Linked DNA regions of Homo sapiens. The protein of the gene in region 1 purifies or fractionates together with the protein of each later gene. This does not show direct contact. Each region holds a gene or a part of one and is shown on either strand. Other genes may lie near its edges.

Region 1 (7,115 bases):
AGTATATATAGATGCAAATAAGGGAACAACAGACACCAGGGCCTACTTGAAGGTGGATGGTGACGACTAAAAAATTACCTATCAGCTACTATGCTTATTACCTGGGTGATGAAATAATCTGCACACCACAACATGCAAATTACATGCAGCATGCAAATTACCCTTAAAACACACTTGTACATATACCTCTGAACCTAAAATAAAAGTAATTAAAAAAAGAACAATCACTGGACCAGTTCCACTGAATTTGTAAAATAAAACCGTCACTTCATTTCACTTTATTTCATATACTTCATCATTCATTTTGTATATTTTATGTTAAATTCTCAAGAAAAATATGTGCAATTGACCCCGAAAGAAGAGGCTTTTCAGAAGAGCATTGCAAGAAGAGGTTTTTCAGAAGAGCATTGCAAAAGAACATTGAGAGCCAGTTACATCATAGGGCTTGGATAGGTCATTTCTCCTGTGCTAACCATTTTTTTTAATAACACCTTTCATATCTATGTGGAGGTTATTGAGATTCCATCTGGGAAAAAATATGTGATAAAATTGCATATAACTAACATGCACACTCTCACACAAATAGATGTGTGTTAAACGGTGAAATATGAAAAAGGTTGTTAGAGTATATCAATATTAATTTTCTGTAGTGATACTCTACTGTAGCTACAAAAGATGTTGCCATTGGAGGAAAACAGGTAAAAGAATAAGAGAGATCTCTATTATTCCTTATAATTACAAATAAATCTACAATTATGTAAAAAAGTTTTTAAAAATGCATTGCATTCTTGTCCAGGGAGCTAAGAAAACTCACCCAATTGTACTCTTGCTATGTTCCAGTCACTGTGCCAGTGACTTTACATAAATTACCTCTAGGATAAAAGTATCTCCTGGCTTTCCCTGAACAGTCCTAATTATTTTTACCTGTTGACCTAGGATCCCATCTAGCTTAACGTTTTCCAAAATTTGTCATTTTTAAAAATGTACTCTTATTACTGATATTTATGTTAAAATAAGCCAGAATGGGTTTAGGAAACCTTTAGTTCTTAGGGCTGCTGTGACAAATAACAATTTTGTTAGCTTAAGATGATACACATTAATTCTCTTACAGTTGTGGAAGTCCAAAGTCCAAAATTAGTTTTACTAGGCTGAAGTAAAGATATTGGCAGAGCTTTGCTTCCTCTGGAGGTCCAAAAGAGACTCTATTTTCTTACATTTTCCATCGTCTGGAGTTTGCATTCCTTGCCTTTCTTGGCTCATGGCCTTTTCCTTCATCTTCTAAGTCTGTAGTGTAGAATCTTGTTTCAGTTTTCACATTGCCTTCTTCTTCCGTAGTAAAATCTCTCTCTGTTTCCCTTTTATAAGAATACTTGTTATTACATTTAGGGTCTTCCTGGATAATCCTTGGTAATCTTCCTATCTCAAGATCCTTAATGACATTTGCAAAGTCCCCTTTTGCCATATAAGGTAAAATTCACAGGTTCCAGGCATTAAGACCTGGATATCTTTGAAGGCAATTATTAAGCCTACCACAGATCTCCACTTTTTACTTCCATTTTTGCATTGTTTTTGTCTGGTAGTGTGTGAGACATCCTTGTCTTGTTCTGGTTCTCAAGGGGAATGCTTCCAGCTTCTGCCCATTCAGTATAATGTTGGCTGTGGATTTGTTATACATGGCTCTTGTTATTTTGAGGTACATTCCTTCAACACCTAGTTTATGGAGAGTTTTTAACATGAAGGGATGTTGAATTTTATCCATAGCCTTTTCTGCATCTACTGAGATGATCATGTGGCTTTTGTCTTTAGTTCTGTTTATGTGATGAATCACATTTATTGATTTGTGTATATTGAGCTAAACTTGCATCCTGGAGATGGATCCTACTTGATCATGGTGGATACATTTTTTGACATGCTACTGTATTCAGTTTGCCACTATTTTGTTGAGGATTTTTGCATCCATGTTAATTAAGGATATTGGCCTGAAGTTTCCTTTTTGTGTGTGTGTCTCTGCCAGGTGTTGGTATCACTTAGTGATTTTATAGTGTTAATATATGTCTATATTTATTTTACTGATGGGAATGATACTTTTATTCTGCAATAAGAAACAAAAGGTCTCTAGTGAATGGTATGTTCAGTAATGTTACTTTTCTAAGAAAGTGGATGACAAACATTTAACTTAAAATATGTTTAATCAACATATACTATGCATCAAGAGAACTGTCATTATATCTTCTTCCAAAGGTAGTAATTACTTGAGGAACAATGTGTCAATTTATTACATGCAAATGCAAAAGTTGTGTTGACTTCTCATTTTGTGAACAGATCTTTTAATTTAGATAAAATGACATTTCTTCAAATTTAATGATACTAATTTTGAATCCCACATTTTTGTGTATATGTTTTAAAAGAGGAGAAATAGTTGTTAATACTTTGGCTCCATTAGCAAAATAACTTAGCAAATAGTTACTGAAGACAGCTTAAAATCACTATAATTAGATGATTAAAACAGAAAATCAGTTCTTTTCAACTGATTTGATATTATTTTCATCAAATTCTTGAATAATTATAATAATTTTATGGAAGTTTATACTGATGAAATTGAAACACCTAGCCTCGATAATTCAGGAAAAAAATTCAACATTGAGGACAGAATTATTGGTGATGTGGTGATAATGACGAATACACATATTGATAGAGCAAAATACTGTAGGAAGATCAAGGTTTTACTAAATGAAGAAAGATGTGTAGCAGAAATATAATCAGAATTGCTTGTGTAACACACATAATTCATAATCCTGTAATCATGATAAGGTATTTTGCAAATCAAAATAAAAATAGTTGTTGCCCAGATATACACAAGACATACACATACATATGTACACACATATACATCTATACATATATGTGTGTATAAATAAACATGTGTATATATACATATACATGTCACTATACTGTAGAAGCTAAAATATTGGTGATTCTTAGTTTTTGTGGGTGGTGGCTTCACGAATGTGAAAGAAAAGGAAAGAAAAAAAAGACAAAGGATGGGAAGGGGAGGAAATAATAGGACGGGAAAGAAAAGGGAAGGAAGAGGGACAAGCAGGGATCGATGATAAGGGTGTGTTGTAAACCAAGGACTATGATGAATTTGTGCATCTGAAATTCATATTTAAAATGTTTTAATGCTTTCTTTTCTACCTGTCTGACATTCTCTCTCTATGAAAACTGATCAAATGTTGGAAGGTAAGTTTCAAGTGTGGAGAGAGACCAAGGGAGATGGCAAGAAGGAAGTTGGTAAATCAATTTGGGGTACACGGGCTTTGGGGTCCCTCAGGGACACTCAGGCGGTGATGTCCAATAGACAGTTGGCAAAGCTGATATGAGACACGGAGAAGGGAACAGCCTGGAGCTGTAGATCTGGGAGTCATCGGTGTTTACTGGAAATGAATGAGATCACACAGGGAGAGACAACTTGAGGACTGAGGAGAGAGGAGGCCCAGGACAGAACCCCAGGAACACCGCCACTCAAGGTGGCAGCTCAGCTTCCTGGCAGGCACCACTACCCCCCGGGCTCTGGAGTCAGGCAGAGCCGGTATTGAAAGTGGGCTGTGGAGTTCTGGGGCTGAGCGCTCTTGGCAAAGTCCGGTACCTCTATGATCAGCTGTCACACCTGGCGATAATGGGCATCAGAGAGATATGCCTTGCGAGGATGCTGTGAGCTGCGTCAGGTAAAGCACCTAGGGTCAGAAAGCCACCTCTCCTCCTCTTCTCCGCGACCCCACTTTGCTACACAAACGCACCGAGACTCCGACCGTCCCCAGCCTCCGGTCCCTCAGGGATGGAAGGTGAGGTATGTCAGGAAAGAGAGGGGGGCCCAGCTCCAAGGTGAGGTGTGTCAGGCAAGAGCGGGGGCAGAGCTCCGGTGACGCGGTGCTCACGTGACCCGCCCGGCGCCTACGTGGGCACCAGCCCCCGCGCCCGCCCGCCAGCCCGCCCAGCGGTCGGGTCCGGGCGCCCGCGCAGAATCAGCTGTCTGAGCTGCCCAGGCGGCGGGGGAGCAGCGAGCGGGCTTCAGCGAGCCGCAGGAGGCACAGGCCTGTCCTGGGTCCCCGCAGGTCAGTGTGAAGGCGTGCGCTGCCGGCGGACCCTGGGACAGGGGTGGAGGGGGCTGGCAGTAGGATTGGGGAGGGGGCGGAGAAGGGATCCGGTAGATTGGGGAGGAGGGGGATGCGGAGTCGCGGGGGCGGGGGCAGTGGAGGGAGAACCCCCGAAGCAAGCCTGGCTCGCCTTCTCGACGCCCCCTTGCACTGAGTCCTCCATCCATTTTAGTGCTGGAAATGGGGGGTGGGGGTAGCGACCCCGCAGTGCGACAGTGAAACGTAGACATATTCTGGAAATAACCCCTTCTCACAATCTACACCCATGGAAACACTTGATCTCCGCAAAAATGAGGTGGCGCTGGGGCAGGTTGCCTCCGGGGAAGGGGGACACAGAGACAAACGCAGTTTGGAAAGCATCCTGGTTTGGTGCCCGAGGCCTGGAAAGAAATGGCGGCTGGGGTGCGGGGGAGGTAGGGGAGGAAAACGGTGGGTAAGCAGGGCCTGGACTCAGGAAAGGGAACCGAGTCCCTGTGAGCCCGCTAAGCGCGCAGCCCCTGCCCCTGTCTCCTGTCTGTCCGCAGGTCTGCGCGTCTGTTGTTCCCAGCGCTCTGAGAGGCCTGAAAAGGAAGAGCAACCTGTCCAGAATCCCCGCAGGTCCGTGAAAGCAGGGGGCTGCATGGACAGGGGCCCACAAGGGTTGAGAGTGTGGAGGGCACAGTCAGGGCCGAATTGGGGCCCCTGCCCATCCCCTTACCTACATGAACACACACCTTACCAGGCTGAACCAGTGCAGAGAAGGTGGCAGGGCCTGCCAGGGAACAGCTGGCTCACGTGTGTGGGAGGAGTGGTGGGCTACGTGGTGGGCAGAAGGCCCTCTTGGAGGCCCAGTCAGCTTAGGGGAACCCTCACCAGGGGTGAGATGCAAGTAGTATCCAGACCTGCATTCCACCCCATGCCCTCAGTCTCCCATGTCTCCTCTTTGTCTCCTCTTCCCTCCACACCCATCCCCCAGGAAAGGAAAAGGAGGGGAAATCTCGACATGGAAAAACTCTTCAATGAAAATGAAGGAATGCCTTCGAATCAAGGAAAGATAGACAATGAAGAACAGCCACCGCACGAGGGAAAGCCAGAAGTAGCTTGTATTCTGGAAGACAAGAAGTTAGAAAACGAGGGAAACACAGAAAACACGGGCAAGAGAGTTGAGGAACCGTTAAAGGATAAAGAAAAGCCAGAGAGTGCGGGAAAGGCAAAAGGAGAAGGAAAGTCAGAGAGGAAGGGAAAGTCAGAGATGCAGGGAGGATCAAAGACAGAGGGAAAGCCAGAGAGAGGGGGAAGGGCAGAGGGTGAAGGAGAGCCAGACAGTGAAAGAGAGCCAGAGAGTGAGGGAGAGCCAGAAAGTGAAACAAGGGCTGCAGGAAAGCGCCCAGCTGAGGATGATATACCCAGGAAAGCCAAAAGAAAAACCAACAAGGGGCTGGCTCAGTACCTCAAGCAATATAAGGAAGCCATACATGATATGAATTTCAGCAATGAGGACATGATAAGAGAATTTGACAACATGGCTAGGGTGGAGGATAAAAGGAGAAAAAGCAAACAGAAATTGGGGGCGTTTTTGTGGATGCAAAGAAATTTACAGGACCCCTTCTATCCTAGGGGTCCAAGGGAATTCAGGGGTGGCTGCAGGGCCCCACGAAGGGACACTGAAGACATTCCTTATGTGTAGTGTCCCTGGCAGGCATTTGTCAGGCCATATGTTTTAACCTTATGGTAATACTTTGCTTTAGTCGTTCCTCCTGCTACCAGTAGCGTTTTGACCCACCTGCCAGTGTTTGCTTGCTCTATGTTTCAGTAGCAGATTTTCACACATGTGCATTGCAGAGACGTCATGATTCGTGGAAAAATAAAGCAGCTTATAATATCATCTACAGAATCTGTCTGTTTTTGTTAAATACATGAAAGGTTAACAGTGGTTTTCTGAGTTGTGAGCTAGCAGGTGATTTCATTTCTTTGTTTTCTTTCTACTAATCTTTCTTTTCCCAGAGAACACAAATTACTTTTCTCACAAAAATAATAAAATATTTTTAAAAAATCAGAACAGTATGTAAAAAGCAAAGAGAATAACTGTCCAGTGAACTTATGAAGTTCAGTAGAGACACTTAACGTTCTTGTTGTCAGAACTTAAAATGATAGGTAAAATTCACATTACCTACCTGTGGGACTCATCTGGAGAAGTCAATCTGGGGTTATTACAGATCCATTGCTCTAACGGACAGTCTTTTCATTTGTCAAATAGAGATAATACCTTGCTTTTCAGAACTGCTGAGTGGGTTGGATAAGGTAGAGAATATATTTGTTGGGTTGGCATCTACCTTCTCCCCTGCTCTAGCAGAAAAAAATACCCCCTCAGACACTTGGAAGAGGACTAGGGTAAATCTTACCTGTGTCCAGGAATAAGTCTAGGAAACTGAAAGGTGGGTGCCATCCTCTTTTAGACAATGTCATGTCCACTGGGCACTGTGCTCCTTCTCATAAATCTTGCACCCTCCTAAAGCTCACATTGATGCCGATGGGCTGAAGTTCTCAAGGTAACAAGGTCCAGTTGATTTCCAGTGAGCCAAGCCTACTGACCCCATTCCACAACAACTATGAAAATGTGGATAAAGTCCCTTTCCTCACTTTAGAGTTATACTCGCCCAATAGGGTAACACCTCAGTGATGCTTCAGCCCCTGGGGGATTTCAGATTTTTAGTAAAACAATTATTTCTATGCTTGTTGGTTTGTAAGTGTTTGCATACAGCCATCTCTCCACCAAATTCAGAGATAGAGGCTGGGGTAAAATTTGAGTGGCACACACTCATCTGTTCTCATCTGTCAGTGACTTGTATGCTTGACTCATCTTTCCTTAGAGTAAATTCTCTTCTAGGAAAGTCCTTCCAGGTCCCACCTTACCAGTTTAACACCCCTACCCACATTTGTAATTTTTAGAGCAATGCTACTCAGATAGTGGTTCATGGACTA
Region 2 (7,722 bases), about 55 Mb from region 1:
CGCCCGGCTAATTTTTTGTATTTTTAGTAGAGACGGGGTTTCACCGTGTTAGCCAGGATGGTCTCCATCTCCTGACCTCGTGATCTGCCTGCTTCAGCCTCCCAAAGTGCTGGGATTACAGGCGTGAGCCACCGCGCCCGGCTTTATTTATTTTTGAGATGGAGTTTTGCCCTGTCGCCCAGACTGGAGTGCAGTGGCGTGATCTTGGCTCACTTGAACCTCTCGGGTTCAAGTGATTCTCCTGCCTCAGCCTCCCAAGGCATGTGGCTGAAGCTCTGCGCAGGGCAGGTGCCCAGTGAACGAGGCAGAGGCAGGGAAGAGAGAAGGTGGTTAAGGCAGGACCATACAAAAGGAAGTGGACCAAGTTCCTGAGGAACCACCACCTCCCTGCCATCCCCACTCACACGAAGATATCATCACGGTCCAAGATGCTGCTCAGAGGCTCCTCTAGCTGATAGAGCTTATAGAAGCGGTGACTGAAGACATCAGCCACCATCATCTAGGAATGGGATATGGAGAGGGGACTGTTAGTCTGCACGGCCTCCCAGGCCCTTCTGCCTCCTTGCCCTGGAATCCCATCCAGCCTCCTTCTGCAGTCTCACCCTCTCTGGCGAGATGCCCGTGTGTTTGGACAGAGCCACACATAGATCCGAGATCTTGCCTTTCTTGGGGACCACGAGCCGGTGCTAAGGGAAAAACGGTATCCACAAAAGACCAAAAGGGCTTGTGGTGAGTTAATGCAAGAAGCCTTGAGCTATGGCAGCTAATCAAACTCTATGTGTCCATCATCATCTCCCCAGGCCCCCACTGCCCCACACCTGCTCTGGCTTGCGGCGCGGATCCATGGGGATAAAGAAGACCTCCAAGACCCTCTTGTGGCTGATAGGCAGTGGAACACTGAGGTAGCAGAAGGGGTCGAAGGTCACAGATACATTGCCACAATCGGGGCACACCAGCGTGGACTTGAAGAGGCCGTGGAAAGTGTCCACGATCACAGAATCGTTCCGCCGTTTGTGGTTTTGCCATGCCTCCTGTGCCACCTCCTGTTGATAGTGTCATGGTGGGTGGTGGGGCTTGCCCAGGGTAAGAGGAAACCATGGCTTGGGGTGCATTCAAATGGGGTGAAGCGGAAGGCCACTGCTAAAGTCCAGAGGCAGAGCTCCAGCTAGGGATACACAGAGACTATGTTCACGGTCAAGACTGGGGGTCATTTAGGGCAGGAGACTGCGCTGGGGTTTACTCTGGGTTGACTGTGGGGGCAGATATGGTATTGCAACTAAGGTTAAGAGTAAGGCTGGAGTTGAGGTCAGGTAGAGAAACTTAACAGAAAATGGTGGCGTGTTAGATACCCCAGGGAGGCCAGAAAATCCCCGAGGCAGAGGCCTTGGTGATGTTAATTGGACTGCAAATGCGGGGGCAGCCTACCTGATCCGGTCGCCCAGCAGCATCGCACAGCTCCACATACTCCTTCTTCTTCACCCGATTAAGGTCCTCATGCAGCCCGTCCAGGAGGAATGACAGCAGCTCCTGAGAGTCATGCTGCTGGTAGCCCAGAAATTGGGATGCAAAATGGCCAACCTTGTTCTAAGAAGATGGGCAGGGTCATCAGAGAGAGAGGGAGTTAGGAGAGCCAAGAGACGTAGGGGGTCGGGGGTGCCCAGGGTTGAGTCACACCTTGAACACATGTGGCACAATGGAGCGGTGGTGGCCAGACCACGCCTGCTTCACCAGGTCTGCATAGGCCTCTGCGATCTCACCCTTCATGCCCAGTGGGTTGCGGAAGTTGAGCTCCTCCAGGTAGCAGTTGTTGAGGAAGTACTCGGTGAGCTGTGGCACATTGCTGAGGCACTGCAGAGGCCAGAGACCAGGTGAATGAGGCAGAGGGGAGACAGAAGGTTCAAAGTGAGGATACACAAAAAGAAGCCAGGAGGAAAGAGAGAGGAAAACAAGAGAGAAGGGGAAGGGAGGAGAGAGAGGAGCAGGAGAGTAGGGGAGAGAAGGCATTAGGATTTCACGAGAAGGAAGAACGTGGGAACAGGGAAGAGAAGAGGGAAAATGAGGGCAAGCTGAGAGAAGAGGCTGATAGTTCAGGAATGAACGTGGGCGTGCCACTTCAGACTTGTGGGGCCTCAGCTTTCATCCTGACCCCTTGCCCTGTAGTCCCCTCAGGACCCCAGCTCTGTCCCCAATCCTCAGCTCTTGAAGCCCAACCACGTGGCTGTGCCAGACACAACTATAATGGCCCAACCTGCAGGGCCGAGTTCATGAAGCACGTGTTGCCCAGATTGGTGAGGCCACAGATGCCTGGCTGACCCTTGAAGTCCTCATCCTCTTCCGACATGTTGTTGTTCCTGGGGTTAGATGAGAAACTGTCAGCTGAGGGCCTGCTGCATGGGGGTGCAATGTGCTCATGGGCTAAATCATTTTGCCTACTGTGGGACGCCCCCGCTCTGGACCAGATACCCCAAGGGCTCACATGACATGCAGCTGTGCGCTGGGCCAAGTGCCATCTTTCTTGCGGGTCTCCATGATGATCAACTGGGTTGGAGAAAGAGAAAGAAGGAAAGGTATTAATGGAGGACATTATGGGTACCTAGCCTTCATTTCCCCCGAGTACTGCCAGGTGAGTCTATCTGCCAGTCCACCTGAACAGAAAAGCCCTCCCCACCCTTACCTGCCCAGTCTCAAGGGCCGCATCGAGAACCGTGATGTGTGTGTCATACAACCTATCCAAAGAGCCTTCTGAGTTCTTGGCCCAAAGCCGAGTGTCTTCCTGGGGCTCCACCAGAAACCGCTCCCGAGCTGTGCGCAATACTAGGCCTGTGCGGGGTGATGGAGTACATTCAAGATCTTTGTGAGACCCAAAATGATCAATCCATCTGGGCATACCTGACTCATCCCTACGGACCTCACATGCTTGGCCAATACCTGTGTCCTCAATCAGTCTCCAAATGACTGGCCCACACTCCAGACTGGAGATCTCCAGCAAATATCCTCTGCCACACCACGTAAGCCACTAGAATGTAGCTCACATACCCTCAGGGCTCTAGTAGATCCCCTCAGTGCCTCCACCCAACTTAGCCAATGCCTTCTGGGTCTTCCAAAGTCTGACCAGTGCCTTCTCAGTCAGCTTCAGCTTAACCCTATGCAACCTCAAGTCACTGAGTTGGGACTAGTAGCTAGGAACACCAACCCATTGCGTGACCCTTAGACTCACCAATAGAATCGGTATGGCTGAACTGAACAGTGTGAGATTTGCCCAAATCATTGTGCCGGACAAGCAGCAGTTCTACTGGGTACACTTCGACCTTCTGGATGTTGGGCAGCTCTATGACCTGTAAGAGTAGAGGGGTGCAGACACAGGTGTACTCACACAGACACAGCGCTGTGACCTCTCAAATGAGAGGAGCACACACTCTGCCTTACAAACATAGCATACAAACACACATATACAATGGTCTGTAAAGAGAGCCACACAGGGGAACACACACAGCAGACAAAGATACCTGTATGATGAGCTAGGAGGGGGAAGAGAGCAGACATATGTGTACCTACCCAGCATACATGGATCTGTACCCATGCTGGGCCTACAAGGCTTTCTTACTACGCACTCCCCGCCATGCACCCTCCCCATCCATTATACCTTGCGTTCAATGGGTGGCTGGCCATGCTCTAGACCATACCAGCTGACCAGGTAATGCCAAGCAGCTGCTGGGAGCAGCACATAATCCTCGCCTTCCACCAGTCCCTCCTTGAGGCGCCAGTTTATCTCATCTGTGGGGCGGGGGTGGAGGTGGCAGAGGAAGAATCAACAAAGGAAACTGACGAATGACTCTGGCCACCCCACCAGTGACCTAGCACACAGAATGGGCTTATGATCATCTGTAGGGACGGAAGGGACAAGAACTCCAGGGCTAGGGTGAGAAGGAGGCAAAGGCCTTGTACCTTGAAAGAGTGTGGCATTGTTGATGCAGCCAGGGAAGGTGCTGGAGTCCTGGTCCCCTCCCTGCACGTATGCCTCCCACTGCTTATACCAGTGCTTCTCCACAAGGAACCTGGGGCCCAGACAGGTAACAAGGGTGTTACATGGGTAGCTGAGGGTTAGCTATACAACTTCCCATGCCCAACAGACTGAAAGTATTGACACATTATAATTTAAGATGAAAAGTTTCAGCATCATATAAAAATAAATTCGAAGCAAAATTTATTCAGTGAAACTCAGATTTGTATGTTAGATAACTTCTTAGTATTAAAAAAGAAATCTGATTAAAAACAGAAAATGTGGTTAACAATGGCAAACAAACCAACAAAAAATCCATACTTATAGTGCTAGGAAACATGAGGTTTTATTATAGAATAAAAGATGATTCATTTGAATTAGTCTGTGGGATAACCCAGTTAAGTTAGGCTCAAGATATGTGCCATCTGCAGCTAATTTTATAAGGCTTTAGCCATTCATTATGTGTTTGTTTCTAAAGGATCTATCAATGGAAGCATAATTCTTCAGCTAAGAACTAGATTTGATAAATGGTGAAAAATCTGCTTTTAAAAGGAGCAAAGAATTTAAAATGCTAAAAAGAATCATAAGGTTTTCCTTCAAAAACTGCATACTGAAAAAAAAAAAAAAAAAAAAAAAAGACCGGGCACAGTGGCTCACGCCAGTAATCCCAGCACTTTGGGAGGTCAAGACGGGTGGATCACCTGAGGTCAGGAGTTCAAGACCAGCCTGGCTGACATGGTGAAACCGTCTCTACTAAAAAATACAACAAATTAGCCAGGTGTGCTGGCACGTGCCTGTAATCCCAGCTACTTGGGAGGCAGAGGCATGAGAATCACTTGAACCCTGGAGGCAGAGGTTGCAGTGAGCCGAGACTGCATCACTGCACTCCAGCCTGTGCGACAGAGTGACTCCATCTCAAAAAAAAAAAAAAAAAAAAGAACTGCATATTGCTATTGTTCATCATTTTTTAATTTAGAATTTACTTTGGCTTTATAGTAAATTCCTGAGCTTATGGTTCTCTTAAAAACTGTGATAAAAACATGTAACATAAAACTTACCATCAAGCATTTTTCAGTATACAGTTCAACTAGCTCTCTTTTAAAGGTGAAACTTATATGTACTACAAGGATAACCATTTAGAACTATATTGAAATCTACCTTTGTGAGAAATCCTGAAGTTTGGAAAATACTTGACATATAATAAGTGCTAAATGAATTTTAGCTGTCATTGTTCTGACAGCTTGGACTTCAGGACTTGGACATAAAAGCTCACAGACATAAACCTCCTCCTGCCTAAACACACACACACACACACACACACACACACACACACACACATACACACACACCTGTTCTGCTGTGGCATTTCTGACACATAAAAGGCTATCCCAAATACTGAGCAGCCTCAAATAAATGCTTTTTAAAAAATAACCAAATTTGATGAAATGCACATAACATTATATTGGCTGGTTTTCAAGCAATTTAACCTCATTATTATTATTATCATTTTTTGAGACAGAGTCTTGCTCTGTCGCCCAGGCTGGAGTGCAGTGGCACAATCTCAGCTCACTGCGACCTTTGCCTGCCGGGTTCAAGCGATTCTCCCAATTTAACCTCATCAATGTGATTCTTTAAAATGTCAACTTTCCCTTGTTCATGAAAGGATCAGAGAGGTGGGAGGATGGAGGGACAGACAAATCTTGGAATAGTCACAAGTCACCTAGATAGGCAAACATTTCTGTGGGTTTTTTGTTGGTTTTGTTTTTTTGCTGCACTGACCCCCACAGACCCTGCCCCATATCACTCACACCAGGGAAACAAACCCTTCTGTGCCGGTGGCTCAATGCTCAGACCCAACCCTGCACCCCACACACCACCATCCACCCTTTGTGGCTTTACTTGCCTCCATAGCCAGTCTATGAAGTTAATTTGTTCAGTAAAGCTATAGTTAACAGTACCTTCCAATGCAAAGGTAGGCACTGCTCAACTTCTTTTTAAGAGCAGATTTTGAACAAAAAATAACATTAAAATCACGCTGTAGAGTGGTAAGCAAAACTTCCAGACCTGGTCACAGGCTGAACTTCTATAGATTTCATAGAGGACTGACATTTTACATAATTTTTCACAGAAAATTATTACCATATTGCTTCAAGTCAAAGACACTTTAAAAAAATCATTGTTAACATCTCTGAAATCAGGATGTCTCACAATCTCTGTCAGGCCAGGTGGCAGTCACAACAAAGGTGTCATGGTCTGTATCAATAACACCCAAATTATTATATTTACAGCTGGGTATTCAATTTTTTGGATGCTATCATAAATGGTATCATAAATTTTAATTTTCTAGTTTCTTGCTGCCAGTATATACAGGTACAACTGATCTTGCTAAAGTCACTTAGGTTTATTCGTGCTTCCTCAAATTTGTTGAAATGATATGAAATATGTGCTTATGGAAAAAAGTTGCTAAACAATTCTTTATTTTCTGTCTTCTAGTTTTCTCTTGTGTCTGATTTGTGTTTGAAGATGGTTCATCCCACAAAAGGAAAAAGTGAAAATTTCCAAGGAGGCTATATTATTACAGATTTGAATTTGCCTTAAAATACAAGCTTCTCCCAGAAATTAAATCAGTTGTGATGACCAAATTAATTAACTACCCTCACCCAAATCTGCCAGCTGACAAAAGACAGAAGGTGCAAATATTAATACTGATACAAGATATATGATTTGGGGTTAGTCCATGACTTCAAAATGCTTTATAAACACATATATCCTGGCCACTTAAGCAAACCCCTGTAAAATGGAAAATGGACAGCAATAAAGAACCTTGAGATGCTTTGCTCTTACTAGAGAAGCATTAACAAAGTGGAGTTTAGCAAAAATGCTTCATGATAATACCCATGACAGCAGAGACAAACCGGCTTCAACACTGAACCAACACTGGTGTGGTAATTTTTTTAATGAGGTGAAATTCACATAACATAACATTAACCATCTTAAAGTGAACAATTCAGCGGCATTTAGAACATTCACAATGTTGTACAACCACAACCTCTCCCTAGTTCCAAAATATTTCATCATCCCAAAAGAAAACCCAGTACTGGTGGGGTAATTTTAAAGCGTATTATCAAGGATGACAGGATGTCATGTCCTACCAGTGACACAATCACAAGGCTACAAAGGTAGGAAGAGGCAAGGATCAAAGCCTCAAGGCCCTTTTGAACATCTTCAAATGAGTTACAAAACACTGTGGTTATTTTGTTTATTCTCAGGATGAAATGAGGCTTTTTCTTGCTGGAAAAGTGTGACGTAATGGCAGAAAAACACGGCTTGGGTTTGTATTCCCGATTTGGAAAATCTCAACTCATCTCCCCAGTAACAGAGATACACATTTCACTGGTGTGGTTATTAAAGAACTCTGTAGTGAGTAAACCTCACTCGAAAAAGCCCTAAGGTTAGATGTGTTTGAGGAACAGCAAGAGTCCAATATGGCCGGCCTGGATGGAGACAGGGAGGGAGTGCGTAATCAGAGGAGAGATATGGGAAGACATCAGAATGCAAGCAGGAGACCAGCTTCATAAAGGCTTGCAATTCATTGTAAGGATTTTAGCATCTACGCTGCAAGAGATGGGAAGCTGTTAAGAGTATTTTGAGGAATGGCTGGACATGATACATGTTTTAAAAATAATTACTGCATATGTAAAGAGGAAAATGGTACCTTTACA

Evidence for each region. Proteins that work in one complex are often made in the same cells at the same time.
Region 2: the proteins of TCEAL2 (region 1) and USP11 purify together in Homo sapiens (affinity purification with mass spectrometry; 3 studies listed by BioGRID). This does not show direct contact.

The regions. Positions count from the first base shown.
Region 1 is NC_000023.11:102,121,695-102,128,809, forward strand, and holds TCEAL2 (transcription elongation factor A protein-like 2), read left to right. Parts: upstream 1-3,984; 5' UTR 3,985-4,112; intron 4,113-4,678; 5' UTR 4,679-4,751; intron 4,752-5,109; 5' UTR 5,110-5,136; coding exon 5,137-5,820; 3' UTR 5,821-6,018; downstream 6,019-7,115. UniProt on the Homo sapiens protein: May be involved in transcriptional regulation.
Region 2 is NC_000023.11:47,235,403-47,243,124, reverse strand, and holds part of USP11 (ubiquitin carboxyl-terminal hydrolase 11), read right to left. Parts: intron 4,056-7,722; coding exon 3,946-4,055; intron 3,775-3,945; coding exon 3,644-3,774; intron 3,336-3,643; coding exon 3,218-3,335; intron 2,821-3,217; coding exon 2,675-2,820; intron 2,539-2,674; coding exon 2,477-2,538; intron 2,352-2,476; coding exon 2,249-2,351; intron 1,849-2,248; coding exon 1,675-1,848; intron 1,585-1,674; coding exon 1,426-1,584; intron 1,044-1,425; coding exon 819-1,043; intron 687-818; coding exon 603-686; intron 500-602; coding exon 405-499; intron 1-404.